2 separate regions of the Homo sapiens genome follow, and region 2 is linked to region 1. A link means that fine-mapping ties the variant in region 1 to the expression of a gene that starts in the linked region. Tissue or cell type: amygdala. Region 1 holds a variant in brackets; the other region holds the start of a gene. All regions are shown on one strand. Distances are from middle to middle.

What was found. PIP is the estimated chance that this variant, and not a neighbour inherited with it, causes the effect.
Region 2: LINC02734 starts here. The variant in region 1 is fine-mapped to the expression of LINC02734 in amygdala (GTEx, PIP above 0.99).

What each region holds. Positions count from the first base shown.
Region 1 is chr11:83,759,854-83,767,963 of GRCh38, reverse strand. The region is part of intron 18 of DLG2 (discs large MAGUK scaffold protein 2); the gene reads left to right. Among named protein-coding and RNA genes, the nearest start is that of DLG2-AS2, 130 kb to the right of the region's middle. The variant A/G (reference allele first, on the strand shown) is at 3,195.
Region 2 is chr11:82,778,408-82,786,496 of GRCh38, reverse strand. It overlaps LINC02734 (long intergenic non-protein coding RNA 2734), which reads right to left and starts at 4,995. Exons shown (of 3, transcript NR_183631.1): 1 at 4,902-4,995.

The DNA.
Region 1 (8,110 bases):
AGCAGAAGTCAAATGCAGTGCTTCTGCTACTTGGCTAGCTGCATGACCTTGTGATAGTTATTTAGCCTCTCCAACCTTCAGATTTCTCATCTGTGAAAAGGGACTAACACCTACTTCATAGGGTAATTTTGATGGACAAGTTATAATAATAATTTCCGGCTGATAGAAAGTATCCGGGAGGTATTAATTACTAAAATAATGAAAAAAAAAGTTAATCTTGCAAAGTGCCTACTGTATATCAGATAGGGTTCTATGTATTCCATGTATTAATTAATGTAATCCCTAAAACAAGCCTGTGAGATAGGGGCTATGATTGTTTCCTTTTCAGAGATGAAGAAACAAAGGCACAGAAAGGCTCAATAACTTGCCCAAGATCACACAGCAAAGTATTAGTGCTGAGATTAAAATTCTGGTCTGGCTGTAGCCTCCCTGCTCTTGACCATCAGAGCCTGCTACCTTTTTATTGTAAAATGATAGCCTGTTTTAGTTTCTTCACAGCATTTGTCACCACATATAATTACCATATTTATTTGCCATGGTCTTCCTTCTCCCAGTTGAAAATAAGCTCCATGAGAACAAGGACCTAATTGAATTATAACTGTAATCCCAGGTGATGGGATAATTCTCTAATCAAATAATTATTACTACCATGACACACATTTACCTATGTAACAAATCCTCACATTTTGCACATGTACCCCAGAACTTAAAAGTAGAGGGGAAAATATAAAATAAAATTTTATCCTAAAAAAAGAACACTACAGAATAATTAATCCCAAAATGTCCATATCCCAATACCTAAAACCTATGATTACGTCACCTTATAAGGCAAATAGGACTTTTCAGATGTGACGAAATTAAGGATCTTGAGATGAGAAGTCAATCCTAGATTATCTGGATGTGCCTAATCTAATCACAAGGGCCTTTTGATAGAAAAAGAGAGGCAGGAGAGTCAGAGAAGAAGATGTTATGACAGAAGCAGAGACCAGATTGACAGCCCGAGAAAGACTATACAGGGCATCGCTGGCTTTGAAGACAGTTTCTTCCCTGGACCTCTAGGAGGAATGCAGTGCTGTGGACAGATAATTTATTCCAGTGAAACCTATTTTTGTCTTCTAAACTCTAGACTCTCAGATAAATGTATGTTGCTGTGAGCTACTAAGAAAAAATGATAATAATTGTATTTACTACTGGTAAATAAGAATGTTAAGAAACCATAAAAGATGATGAGAGAATCAAGTTAGAAAAATGAAAGAAAATATATGTAAGAAATTAAGATTCTAAGAGACAATAGCAAACAAAAGCATTGCTAATAATGACTCAGAAGCATTCCCACAAATTAACAGGCAGTTTGTTAGAAAAGATAACCTTGGCAAAATACATGGTACCTGTATTTTCCCTCAATTGCTGATAATATAATTAAAGGCACACAATCTCATTTTTCCTCATTTTTCAAATTTATAAGAAGGAGGAACACAGTGGAATCTGCATTGCCATGGAACACAAAGAAGAATACCAAAGATAAATAGGCTTAACTCATAACTCATTATAAAAAAAAAAAAAAAAAGGCAGGCCAGGCATGGTGGCTCACACCTGTAATCCCAGCACTTTGGGAGGCTGAGATGGGTGGATCATGAGGTCAGGAGATCGAGACCATCCTGGCTAACATGGTGAAACCCCATCTGTACTAAAAATACAAAAAATTAGCCAGGTGTGGTGGCACGTGCCTGTAGTCCCAGCTACTTGGGAAGCTGAGGCAGGAGAATTGCTTGAACTCGGGAGGCAGAGGTTGCAGTGAGCCGAGATCACGTCACTGCACTCCAGCCTGGGTGACAGAGTGAGACTCCATCTCAAAAAAAAAAAAAAAAGCATTCAGTGGAATCTCCCAAGATTAGTTTTAATATTCATATTGCTTCTAAGAAGAAAATATGATAATAGCATTTGTCAACATCCAAGTAACTGAGCAAAACACAGTGTCAAGGAAATAAATAAAATGGACATTGTATGCTGTCAAGTGTGCTCTCAAAATTTCATGTGAATCTACTTTTTATTTATTATCTACATCTACATTCCAGACAAACATACACTATCACTATTGAGTATATTTGGGTAGCAATTCTAATACCTTAACTTTCCATTGGTGCACAAAGGCAACAGTTTTCTATCTCTGTTCAGTTGGAGAAACTCAATTGTACATATATTGTGCCTCCTATGTTCCAGCCCTTTGCTAGGCACTAGGAACAAAGACACAGCTCTCACTCTCATAGGCTGAAAAAGCAAGGTCTACTTGGCTACCATGTTTGTCTGTCTGAGACATCTGTCTACATCTTGGATTCTAATGCTGCATTAAATATCTAACCTCTGTTAAAACTGAAGGTATGTTGTTAGTATCATAGGCCCAAATCCAGCCTATGGTGTACAAATGGACACTTTTGTGATTTCTGTTAAACGCCAACCCCAAATCAAAAGCCATTTTCCTTTCTGGATATTAAACAACAATCAAGAGCCAGAATTTTGATTTAGAATGTATTTATAGTATGGAATTTTAAAAGGTAAATATTTCTCCTTTTCAAGACAGAAACTCAGATATCAGGATTATTTTCAGAACAAATCTGCTGCCTCTCAGTATTTTGATTAATTCCTCTAGCAGTAATTTCTTAAAGTATTTGTTTTTAATTCTGTATCCCATCAAGATGTTAATTTTCCATCAAGAGTTTTAGAGAAAATGTGGGCTTAAAAAAATTGTTTTAACACACTGATAAAATAATTCATTTGACATATAGCTATGAGCAGTTCCCCAGGACTTTCTTTAGGCTATATTTTACAATGCCAGGACAAAAAAGAACAAAGAAAGTCAAACATTACTTTTTTCTAACCTGGGATTTGAGGGTACAGGGGAGATGTCATTTTAATACTATAACAGAACATGTAATTTTAAGTAAAGTTTTTAATTGTATTTCTAAAAACATGGATCATATCCAAGTCAAATCTAGAGAGTGTGCCGGCCATCTCTGCCTGACCACACCTACAGGGCAGGCCTATCAGCCTATCATTCTGCAGCCTGAGAGCCGAGTTTGTCTCTCCTCAAGTCTGGGACAGACCACAGACATCTGGCTTCAAAGGCCATAGTATTGTAATGACTAAAATAGAGAACACCTCCTGAGTGAAGAAAGATGCACTGAAATGAAGTGATC[A/G]AAGCACAGACTCTGGAACCAGAGTCCTGTGTTCAAACCCTAAATCTGTCACTTACTAGCTGTGAGACCCTGGGAAAGGCACTTCACCTCTTGGTGTATCAGTCTCTTTATTAATAAAATTGAGATAATAGTAGCTATGTTATAAGATAATTTTGAAGATTAAGTAGGTTAATGTTTATAAAGCTCTTACAATAGTGACTCAATGATAATAAATCCCAAGTGTTGACAGGCAGAAAGATAGAGTAACTCCCATCCAACCTCACCACCACAGCAAGGTCAGTGACATTTGCCTTCTCCCTTCCCTGCACACCCCTTTGGGGCAACTGGCCTTTGTGATTTCCATTTCTTTTCAGCACCACTCATTCAAATTGCTTTAATCTGATTTTTTGGCTAAATATATTCATTCATTAAACAACCATATATTGAATGTCTATGATACATCAGCACTTTGAAGTTCCAAAAGCTGGGAGTGGTAGGGTAGGAAGCTTCTCCCTCCTGCTGTCTCACAATCATTACTCCCTCCACAATCACTCCCACCGTGATTTTCTCAGCTCTGCACCTGTCTCAGGGGATCTGGTAGCCAATGCTTATGTGATTCCAGCCATGCGATAGTACTGCTGTGATTTTACATAAGCTGGTATGAGGCATACTCCCATTCATTAAGAAATGGCTTCTCTTTCCTAAATAACCCATCTGTAGTTAGAATCCACCAAACAGTTTTCAGAGGCTCTTGTTCAAACAAATGGCCAACATGGGCTTACCTGAAAGATAAGTTCTGAAATATCTTGAACTGGTCTAAATTAGGTGCAATGACTGTTCTATAAATGGAACCACTTTATAAGAATATGAGATCCGGCAAAATAGACAATCAATATTTTTAAAATGAGTTAATAATATGACAGGACCAGTGAGAGAAGAAGGACAGACAATATTGTAGGAACCATTGTGCCTGACTAGAGAGAAATTTCAAAATAAAGAGTGGGATATGGGTCCTGGGGTAATTAACTTTGAGTCTAAAATGCAGCTAATGTGGGATACAGCATTATATGTTATATTCCATTTTAAAAACCTGCCTATTTTAACTATAAGGTATGATCAACTGTAAGATGCAGCCTTATTTCAGGTATATAAAAATGTGGAAAAAGTTGCCTTTTACAATTGATGAAATATGGTGATCATTCACATTTTCCTTGCAACTCACATGGTGAACAGTCACATGTGGCATAAGTGAGATTGGCTGTGGGTTTTTCTATGCATTTATGATAAGTTCACTCCTTTCATTCCTAATGAAGAGAGCAATTTGCAATGCAAGCAAAAGTAAGAAGGAAGCTATAATAGAAACAATCTTGATTCACACTAATTTATTAAAAATCTGTTTTGTGAGAATGCATGGACATAAAGAAAAGAATGAGACACTGGAGTCTACTTGATGGTGGAGGGTGGGAGGAGGGAGAGGATTTAAAAAAAATCTATTGAGTATTATCCTTATTACCTGGGTGACTAAATAATCTGGACACCAAACCCCCACAACACACAGTTTACCTATATAACAAGCCTGCACATATACGCCTAAACCTAAAATAAAAGTTAAAAAAATTCTTAATTTCAGTTCTTTGTACATAATTGCTAAAACGTGATGTAACAGTATGTAATGCACCATAGGGGAGAACTGATGTCCCAAGCTAGCAAAAGGGTAGTATGGCAGCCCTTTATAGGGAACTTTGCCTTCAAGGGTGGACAGGGAGGTTGCTGCTCAAAAAGCCAACCTGGCAGATGGGAACAGAAAATAACAAAACAAAACAAACAACTACTTGCTTGAAACTATATCACAGACTCTGACTCAGATGTTCAAAGCTTCTAAGAAGCTGTCATATAACAATTTAATACTTGGCCAGGCACATTGGCTCACGCCTGTAATCCCAGCACTTTGGAGGGCCGAGGCAGGCAGATCACGAGGTCAGAAGATCGAGACCATCCTGGTTAACATGGTGAAACCCCGTCTCTACTAAAAATACAAAAAAATTAGCCAGGCGTGGCGGCATGCGCCTGTAGTCCCAGCTGTTGAGTAGGCTGAGGCAGGAGAATGGCATGAACCCAGGAGGCGGAGCTTGCAGTGAGCCGAGATCATGCCACTGCAGTCCAGCCTGGGTGACAGAGCAAGACTCCGTCTCAAAAAAAAAAAAAAAATTAATACTTAATCTCAACACTTAGGTTTGCCATTGTCCTTATCATGAAAATTACTACAATTCCCAAACTCATGGCACAAACATGTGTTGACAAAATCTATATACAAAATGTGAGGTATAGTCGACAAAATCTTTAGAACAAAATGTGAGGTGATGCTAGAATGTGGTGACAATTTTGCCCTAACTTAATTGGAAAGCCATTGTAACTTGAATAGAATGGTCCACCTGCAGCATGGTCTTCCCTGCTCTGTCACATAGCATCAGAAAGGACCAGATACTTGTTAAGAACATCTTTAAACTGTGTTGTTTATGCTTTTGTTTTTGAGTCAGCAATCGCTGACAGATTTTAGAAACTGGCGGGAATAAAGAATCAGACATTTAATTTGGCAGGGCAGTCTTGTACTTCAGATAAATGGATCTGGATTTGTGATGCCTTCTTCAAAATATTAATTTCTCTTTTGAAACCAAATCATATTTGGCTTCAATATCTTATTTAAAATGCATTTTTACTTACATATCATCTGCTTTGAGCTCTTAAATAGCCTGGGAGTTAGATCATGGACTTTGAGCTTCTCAAGGATTAGAACAGTGTTCTTCTCACGGTTTGTTGGTACTTGCCCAGCATCTGGTAATTACAATAACTCCCTGGGAGATTCAAGGGAAAATTTCAAGCCAAGTAAGAACTGGAAGGGAAAGACCTCCACATCCAAATAAAGATACATTTTATTTAAGTAAGATTTGTTGAGTTGCTATGCTGTTGTGGGATCTGTGCTAGGTAGTGAGTTTATGAGGATGAATGATACAGCTCCCGGCCTCCATGTTTCCCATGTATTAGGGAACACACAACAGCACGTTGTCAAGGGTGATCCAATAGGGGGAAGCACAGGGGGATTAGAGATGTCTATGTAGCCATTTGCATTCAATCAGAAGGAGTCTAGGAGCAGTTAGTCTAGGACCTGAGATATGATGTTGGGGGTAATGGGAAGTAGGAATCCAATTCAGACAGAAATACATGCATACAAATGCAATTCAGACAGAAATAAACAACAGGAACAAAGCTTCAGAGAAGAATGAACAGGGTGCATTTGTTTCAGAGACTATCATTATTCAATATAATTGTAAGTTGCAAATTGTAATTGTAAATTAAGGCATCAACTTGGGATTGGCCAAATATCAGACTGGCAAGGAACCACTAATAGAACTCGAAGTGAATTATTTGTGGAGAATTTAACATAGGAGTTATTTACCAAAAAGTGGGCCAGATGTATTAACACTTGAGAGGTACTCCAGGACTATTAAGTATGGGATTGTTACCCCTCCTAGACGGGGTGTCCTTGTAGCAATTATCCAACTGCAGAGATTCTCCTAAGGAGACTGCAGTGAGGAATCCAGCAAATAAATGCCCATTCTCACTGTCATTCTGCTTCTCATCTCCTGCTAGTGTTGTCCCTTTGCCAAACCCAACCAGAAGCCATATGTGCTCCATGCTTATCAGCTTCCCAGGCACAGATCAGAGTGAAGAAGGGTGGAGAGCTGAGAAGCCAACAAGCAAAATCTATACAGCATAAATCTGAAAAGAAAAATTTGGCTAAACCTTGAAAGGTCTTGTATCTTCTGCTCATTGTCTTATACCTTAAGACAATGAGGTACATTCAAAGGGTGTTAAATAAGGGAATATTTTTATAGAGACAACCCATGATGTACTTGATGTAGGCAGAAAGGTAGGGCAAGACTAGAGAAACAAGGAGGAGTTAGTAAGCTGCTACAGTTGTCTAGGCAAGGGACCGTGGTGTTGAACTGGGAAGATGCCAGTGGAAATGGAAAGAAGGGACTGGATTTGTGACTGATCTATTTGGAGACAGTTTTTTGTTGTTGTTGTTTTTGTTGTTGTTTTTCTGTTTCTGTTTTTAGAATAGATGGAGATGGTGGGCCAGGAGCAGTGGCTCACACCTGTAATCCCAGCCCTTTGGGAGGCCGAGGCAGGTGGATCACCTGAGGTCAGGAGTTTGAGACCAGCCTGGTCAACATGGTGAAACCCTATCTCTACTAAAAATAACAAAAATTAGCCGGGCGTGGTGGCAGGCACCTGTAATCCCAGCTCCAAAAAAAAAAAAGAATAGATGGAGATAGTGAGATTAGAGAAGAAAGTGAGCAGGCATTGAACTGGAAGTCTAGAAATGAGAAAGAATATGTGTTTAGGACTTGGTCTCAGCTTTTGCACTATGCAGCTAAGTGATCCAGTTGATCCAGCCTCTTTTGAGCCTCAATTTTGTTATCTGCCAATAATGGGAATATAAGCTGGACTTCTTAAATTCTTAAATTTAGTATTCTGTTCTTTTTCATTCATCATAAGCCTGGAGACAATTTCTGCCCACCAGGTGAAAGGCTTTTAATGAACTGAGCATGTCAAGGGAACTTCAGGAATTCACAAGAAGAGTCTGAGGATATTGCTCAGCTGAGGGTCTTTTGGATGTTGAGTTTGTTTATTAAGCAATTCAACTGTCAGTGCCTTAGATTTTAATGTAAGGGAATAGAAGGCCACCCATGGAGGGAAAGTTAGTATGTCCTCTCTGCCTTCTAAATATCACAAACCATATTGAATATTATTCATTTTGAAATGATTTAATAAAACATCTTCGGGAGCTTCAAGATTCCGTTTTGAATGTCCTACTTGTGAGTTTTGGAATCTGGGACAGAGCTGAGCTGAGCTGGTAATTATTATCAATGTTG
Region 2 (8,089 bases), 980 kb after region 1:
ATCTTGCTGGATGTCCTGAGGGGTAGAAGTGAGGGATAGCGCCCTTTGAGAAGCATCAAGCAAGAGACTGGGTAGGGGATAAAGATTTGTGAGTCCCTTGAATGATGACTCTTTCTCTGCTCTTTAGCGGTACCACCCAGAAGATGCAGAACTTTAGTGGAATCTCTAACCCTGTCCAAGGTTCCCATGCTATAATTAATTTTAAAAAGTAGCTAACATTTACACCTGCTCTAATTCATTTATTTCTCACATAAACTCTATGGGTTAAGTATTATCATTCTCCCCATTTTATAGATTAGAAAACTGAGGTTCAGCTAGGCAGAGACAGAATTTAAACCTGGGGGATTTGGATTTGGTCCCTGAGCCTATTTTTCTAACCATATTTTTCTGTAATTCTGTACTTCTGGGCCAGAACTGGCCTGCAGATTATGCAAGACTGCGTATCAGCAAGAATGACCTATGACTGAGCATATCTCAAAGTCTTGATGCCATGTAAGACCCCAGAACCTTGTAACACCTGGGGAAGGGGTAATCCCAAGAATGGTTGAGGTATAACTTCCTGTCTATAGAGCTGGATGGGAATCTTAGTGTTGAAGTGAAAATGATTAAAAATAAATTTTAAAATGTGAATGTTGTTTTCTCTGTTGTTGTTTATACATTGAGATTCTTATCTGCTAAAAACTGATAAAATGTGGCAAAGGAGTGCAAAAAAAGTATTTATATAATCTCACCTAAAATATTAACATTAATAACTCGAATTAATTGAGTGCTTACATATGCCATGAGACATAATTTTTTTTTAAAACGTATATAGATTTTGGGGATACAAGTGCAGTTTTGTTACATGGATATATTGCATAGTGGTGAAATCTGGGCTCTTAGTATAGCCATTACCTGAATAGTGCACACTGTACTCCTCAAGTAATTTCTCATCCCTCACCCCCCTCCCACTCTTCTCAGTCTCCAGTGTCCATTATTCCATGTGTATGAATTATTTCACTCCTGCTTATAACTCCAGTGTCTATGCCCACGTATATGAATTATTTCACTCCCACTTATAACTAAGAACATGCAGTGTTTCATTTTCTGTTTCTGAGTTCACTTAATTGCTTCCAGTTCCATCCATGTTGCTGCAAAAGACATGATTTTGTTCTTCTTATGCTTGAGTAGTATTCCATTGCACATATATATATACACCACATTTTAAAAATCCAATCATCCACTGATGGATACTTGGGTTGATTCCATATCTTTGCAATTGTGAATAGTGCTGAGATAAACATACCTATGCAGGCATCTTTTTAATATAATGATTTATTTTCCCTTGGGTAAATACCCAGTAGTAGTATTGCCAGATCAAATGGTAGTTCTATGTTTAGTTCTTTTAGAAATCTCCATATTGTTTTCCATAGAGGTTGTACTAATTTATTTAATCCTACAGTCTTATGTGGACAGTATTAAGGTCCTAGGGAAATTAAATAACTAGTCCAAGCACAGACCATCACTAAGTTGTGGAGTTAGGATTCAGATCCAGGATAATGTGATTTGAAAGCCATTGCTCTTTTCCAGTATGAAGCATCTAATGCTTCCACACTACCACCACTAGGTAGAAACATCCTCAATGAAATAATACAGGTTTAATTTATGAACATATTAAAAAGCGAATACATCGTAAAACATGTAGTTCAATTGCAGAAATACTAGGAAAATCCAATATTAGTAAATATAATAATAAAATCATCACATATAAATCATCTTGATAAAAGTTAAAAAGTAATTTGAAATGAATTATATACCATGGTTAACTGGAATTTATTCCAGGTATTCAAAACTGATTCAACATTTTAAAAATCAATTAATGTAATTTTTCACATCAACAGACTAGAGAAGAAAAATTATAGAATTTTTCAAATGTAGAGAAAGCATTTGACAAAATCCAACACCCATTCATTATATACATTCTCAGAAAACTAGGAATAGACAGAAACTTCAAGTCTGAGAACAAAATAAGGATGTCTCCCTCACCATTCCTATTCAACTTCACATTGGAAGTCCTAGCTAATGCAATAAAATAAGAAAAGGATTTAAAAGGGATATGGATTGAAAAGGAATAAGTATAACTATGCTTGTGGATGATATAATTATCTATTTGGAAAATTCTAAAGAACCAACAAAAAATCCTGGAACCACTACGTGATTATAGTGAGTTTGTAGGAAAAAAGATTAATATAAAAAACTCAATTGCTTTTCTATCTAATGGCAATGAACAATTAACATTTTAAATTAAAAACACGACTTCTTTTATATTATCACTAAAAATGACATAGTTATAAACTTAACAAAATATGTATAATACTTATATGAGGAAAACTATACAACTGTTAAAAAATCAAAGAAAACAAAAATGAAAAGATATTCCATGTTCACGGACAGCAAGAAAATGTTATTAAAATGTCAGTTCTTCCCATATAGATTTAACATAATCCCAATCAAAATCACAGTAATTTATTTCATGGATATTGGTAAACAGATTCTGAAGTTTATATAGAAAGGAAAAAGAACCAGAATATCCAACACAATATGGAAAAAAAAAATAAAGTCAGAGGATTGGCACTCTATGGCTTCAAGACTTACTATTGAGCCATAGTGATGAAAACATTGACAAAGTAATAGACAAATAGATCAGTGGAACATAATGGAGAGCGCAGAAATAGACCCATGCAAATATAGTTCAACAGGACTTTGACAAAGGAGCAAAGGCAATTCAATGGAGAAAAGGCTTTTCAATAAATAGTGCTGGAACAACTGGACATCACCATGCCAAAAACCAAAATAAACAAAACAAAACTTAGACACAGATTTTACACCTTTCACAAAATGAACTCAAAATGAATCATAGACCTAAACATGACACAAAAAACTACACAACTTCCAGAAGACAACATGGGAGAAAATCTAGGTGACCTTGGGTTTGACGATGACTTTTTAGATATAGTACCAAAAGTATGATCCATGAAAGAAAAAGTTGATAATTTAGACTTCATTAAAATTAAAGACTTCTCTGTGGAAGATAATATTAAGAAAATTTAAAGAAAAGCCACAGACTGGGAGAAGATATTTGCAGAACACATATCTGATAAAGGACTTACACCCAAAATATACAAAACACCCTTAAAACTTAACAATAAACAACCAACCCAATTGTGTTAAAACAACCCAATTACAAAGTGAGCAAAAGATCTGAACTGAAGCACCTCCAAAGAGAATATACAGTTTGCAAATAAGCATATGAACAAATGCCCAACATCATATGTTATTACGTAATTGCAAATTAAGACACCAATACACACCTATTAGAATGGCTAAAATCCAAAACACTGACAACACAAAGTGGTGAAAATATGTAACAACAGGAATCCTCATTCATTGCTGGTGGAAATGCAAAATAGTAGAGCTATTTTGGAAGATAGTCTATCAGTTTCTAACAAAGTTAAACATAGGCTTACCATATGATTCAGCAATTTCACTTCTTGGTATTTGCCCAGATGAGTTGAAAATTTATCCACACAGAAATTTGCACATGAATGCTTATAGCAGTTTTATTCTTGATTGTCAAAAATTGGAAGCAACTAAGATATCCTTCAATGGGTGAATGGAAAAACATACTGTGTACAATGGAATATTATTCAGTGATAAAAGAAATGAACTATAAAACTGTAAAAAGACATGGAGGAAACTTATATGTATATTGCTAAGTGAAAGAAACCAATCTGAAAACCTACTTACTATATGATTCCAACTATTTGACATTCTGGCAAAGACAAAATTATAGAGACAGTAAAAGGATCAATGGTTGTGTTACCGGTTGAAGGTAGTTGTTCAGGTTCTTGGCATTTTGAACAAAGAATTGGACAAAATGCGCAAACAAAGCAAGGCAGCAAAAGCAGAGATTTATTCTAAAAGAAAGTACACTCCTCAGGGTGGCAGTGGGCTCAAGCAAGTGGCTCAAGAGTGTCGGTTACAGATTTTTCTGGGATTTAAATACCATCTAGAGGTTTCCCATTGGTTCACTCTATGCAAACGCAGTAGTGGCCCATCACCAGTCTGATTGGTTGTAGGAGGGGACCAATCAGAGTGAAGAGTAGGCCCATGACCAGTCTGATTGGTTATGGGAAGGGACCATTTAGAGATATTGTCATTTTTCATCTGCCACCCAGAAAAAGGAGGGGTTGAAAAGGAAGTAGCCTCTGATGTCCAGTCAGCATGAATCGGCCTTAGGTTCCCTGCCTCCAGACCCTATTCTCTGCCTCAGTTGGTAGAGGTTTGGAGAAAAGGGACAAATAATTGTAACACAGGGCATTTTTAGGTCAGTGAAACTATTTTGTGTGACACTGGAAGAGTGGATACATGGCATTAAGCATTTGTCAAAATTAATAAAACTGTACAACCCAAAAAATGAACCCTATGGTAAACTATAAACCTTAGTTAATAATAATGAATCAATATTGGCTTATCAGTTGTAACAAATAGCACAAATGCAAGATATTAATCATAAGAGAAACCATGTGTGCATGGGGAGGGTTTTCATGGGAAATCTCAGTTTCCGTACAATTTTTCTGTAAGCCTAAAACAACTCTAAAAAATAAAGTCTATTAAAAATCGTTATTAATAAAATTCAATATCTATTCCTGTTTAAGTGTCTTTGTTTTATCAATGAAAGGTTACGTTTTGAATGTGACAGATTCTACCTATCTTTAGCCACCAGTCAACAATTACTCTATCATTTCTTCTCTCCTCTTTACTGTAAAATTTCCTGAAAGTGTTGGCTATACCCACTCCACTTTCTCATCTTCTAGCCTATCCTAATTCTTCACGATCATAATGAAACCACTCTTGTTTACCAGTAACAATTGCCGTCCTGTGTCAAAAACCGAATGGTTGATCTCAGCCAGCATCTTTCTTGATCTCTCAACAGAATGCAACAGTTTTGTCTCCATGACACTACATTCTTCTCATTTTCTCCTACCTCATTGGCTACTCATGACCAGCTTCTTTTGCTGGCTCTTTCTCTTCATTCTGAATTCTAAATGTTGAGGTGCTATTAGACTCTTCCTTCCCTATATGATCTCATTTAGTATCACGGCTTTCTTTACATAACTTTTACATATTGATGTCCTGGGTTTTATCTCTGGCCCTGACCTCTTCTCTGAGCTCTAAACTCATGAACCCAACAATCTTCACTTTGATTCTAAGAGGCAGGTCCATCACATATAGTTTTAGGTGCACACACACACACATATACTTACACACATATATACATATATATGTCTCAGAATCAATATACATCTCAACATGAAAAAATATATATAACTTAGGGAGGCCAAAGCAGGAGGATTACTTGAGGCCAGGAGTTCAAGACCAGCCTAGGCAACATAGTGAGACTCTGTCTGTACAAAAATTTAAATATATATATTTATGTATCTATATATAAGTCTATATATATAGATATATATAAGATATATCTATATATGTCTATATATATATATATAAATATATATATAAATGTAGATGGCACTCCATTGAATCCCCTAGAGTTGTGCAACACATCATCCTTAAATTCGGTATTTTAAAATTTAAATTTAAATTTAAAATTTAATTAAAATTTAAAATTAACATGGCCAAAAGAGAACATTTTCCTCAAGTTCATTCTTACTCCAGTCTTTCCCAACTGAGTACAAGGCACCATCTTCACTCCCTGTACTACAGAGGCTAGAAAATATACATTTACTGAACTTTCTTGCCATAGGGTTCTAGGTATGATTTAAGTTCTGACAATAAGATGCATTTACTTAAGACTTGGAAGGTGGAGGCCAATCATCTATGATGGTGATGGCTAATGTGTTGGCCCTGGCAGACATGGGATTTGCAACCATCAGTCTATGTTTCCCCATGAGGAACAAGAATGCCATTATGGAACACCGGTCAGAGTGGGGACTAGGGAGATCAGGTGAGAAATCACATTTTGGTCGCATGTGCCTGTAGTCCCAGCTATTTGGGAGGCTCCTGGGAGAATTGCTTGAGCCTGGGAGGTCGAGGCTGTAGTGAGCTGAGATCATCACGCCACTGCACTCCAGCCTGGGTGACAGAGGAAGACCCAGTTTCAAAACAAAAAACAGAAAACAAAACAAACAAACAAACAAAAAGTCATCAGAGATATTGGCCACTAGTTTTCCTTTTTTAACGTGTTTTTTATTTTTTAAGTATTTTTTGAGAGGGAGTCTTGCTCTGTTGCTCAGGCTGGAGTGTGGTGGCACAATCTTGGCTCACTGCAACCTCCATCTCCCAGGTTCAAGTAATTCTGTTGCCTCAGCTTCCTGAGTAGCCAGGACTACAGGCACCCACCACCATGACAGCTAATTTTTGTATTTTTAGTAGAGACTGGATTTTGCCATGTTGGCCAGCCTGGTCTTGAACTCCTGATCTCAGGTGATCCACCCACTTCAGCCTCCCCAAATGCTGGGATTACAGGTGTGAGCCACTGCACTTGGCCTTTTAATGTGTTTTTGTTTGGCTTTAATAACAAAGTCATATTGGCCTTGCAGAATGAGTTTGGAAGTAATCCCTCCTCCTCTATTTTTCAGAAGAGTTTGAGTAGGATTGGTGTTAGTTCTTCTTTAAATGTTTGGTAGAATTCAGCAGTAAAACCACTGGGTCCTGGGCTTTTCTTTACTGGGAGACTTCTTATTATAGCTTTGATGTCATTACTTGTTATTGGTCTGTTCAGGTTTTGGATTTCTTCATGGTTTAATCTTGGTGTGTTGTATATGTCTAGGATATGCCCATTTTTTCTAGATTTCCCAATGTAACGACATAGAATTGGTCATAGTAACCACTAATGATCCTTTGAATTTCTTCAGTATCAGTTATAATGTCTCCTTTTTCATCTCTGATTTTATTTATTTTGACCTTCCCTCTTCTTAGTCTGGCCAATGCTTTGTAAATTTTGCTTAACTTTTCAAGAAAACCATTTTTGTTTGATTGATTATTTTGTATTGTTTTCTTCATTTCAATTTCACTTATTTCTTCTCTGATCTTTATTATTTCTTTTCTTCTACTAATTTTGTGTTTGGTTTGCTCTTGCTTTTCTAGTTATTTAAGGTGTATTGTTAGGTTGTTTATTTGCAGTTTTTCTTCTTTTTTGATGTGGGCACTTATAGCTGTAAATATCCCTTATAGTACTGCTTTTGCTGTATCCCACAGGTTTTGGTCTGTTGTGTTTCCACTATCATTTGTTTCAAGAAAATTTTCCACTTCCTTTTTTATTACTTCATTGGCTCACTGGTCATTCAGGATCATATGGTTTAATTTCCATGTATTTTTATAGTTTCCAAAATTCCTCTTGTTTTTATAGCTTTATTCCATCATGGTCAGAGAAAATGTTTAATATTATTTCAATTGTTTGAATGTTTTAAGACTTATTTTATGACCTAACATATGGTCTATCCTTGAGGATAATCTTTGTGCTGAGGAAAAGATATTCTGCAGCTGTTGGATGAAATGTTGTGTAAATATCTATTAGGTCCATTTGGTATATAGTGCAGATTAAGTCCAATGTTTCTTTGTTGATTTTCTGTCTGGAAGACCTTTCCGATGCTGAAAGTGGGGTGTTAGAGTCTCCAGCTATTATTATATTGGAGTCTATCTCTCTCTTGAGCTCTAATAATATTTGTTTTATATATATGGGTGCTTCAGTGTTGGATGCATATATATAAAATTGTTATATCCTTTTTAGCAATTCAGACCCCTTTATCATTATATAGTGACCTCCTTTGTCTCTTATTATAGTTTTTGTCTTGAAATTTATTTTGTTTGATATAAGTATAGCTACTTCTGCTCTTTTTTGGTTTCTATTGGCATGGAATATACTTTTCCATCCTTTTGTTTTCAGTCTGTGTATTTCTTTATATGTGAAGTGTTTATTTTGTTGGCAACAGATTATTGGGTCTTGTTTGTTTTTAATCCATTCAGGTTCTCTATGTCTTTTGACTGAAAAGTTTAGTCAATTCCATTCAATGTTATTATTGATGAG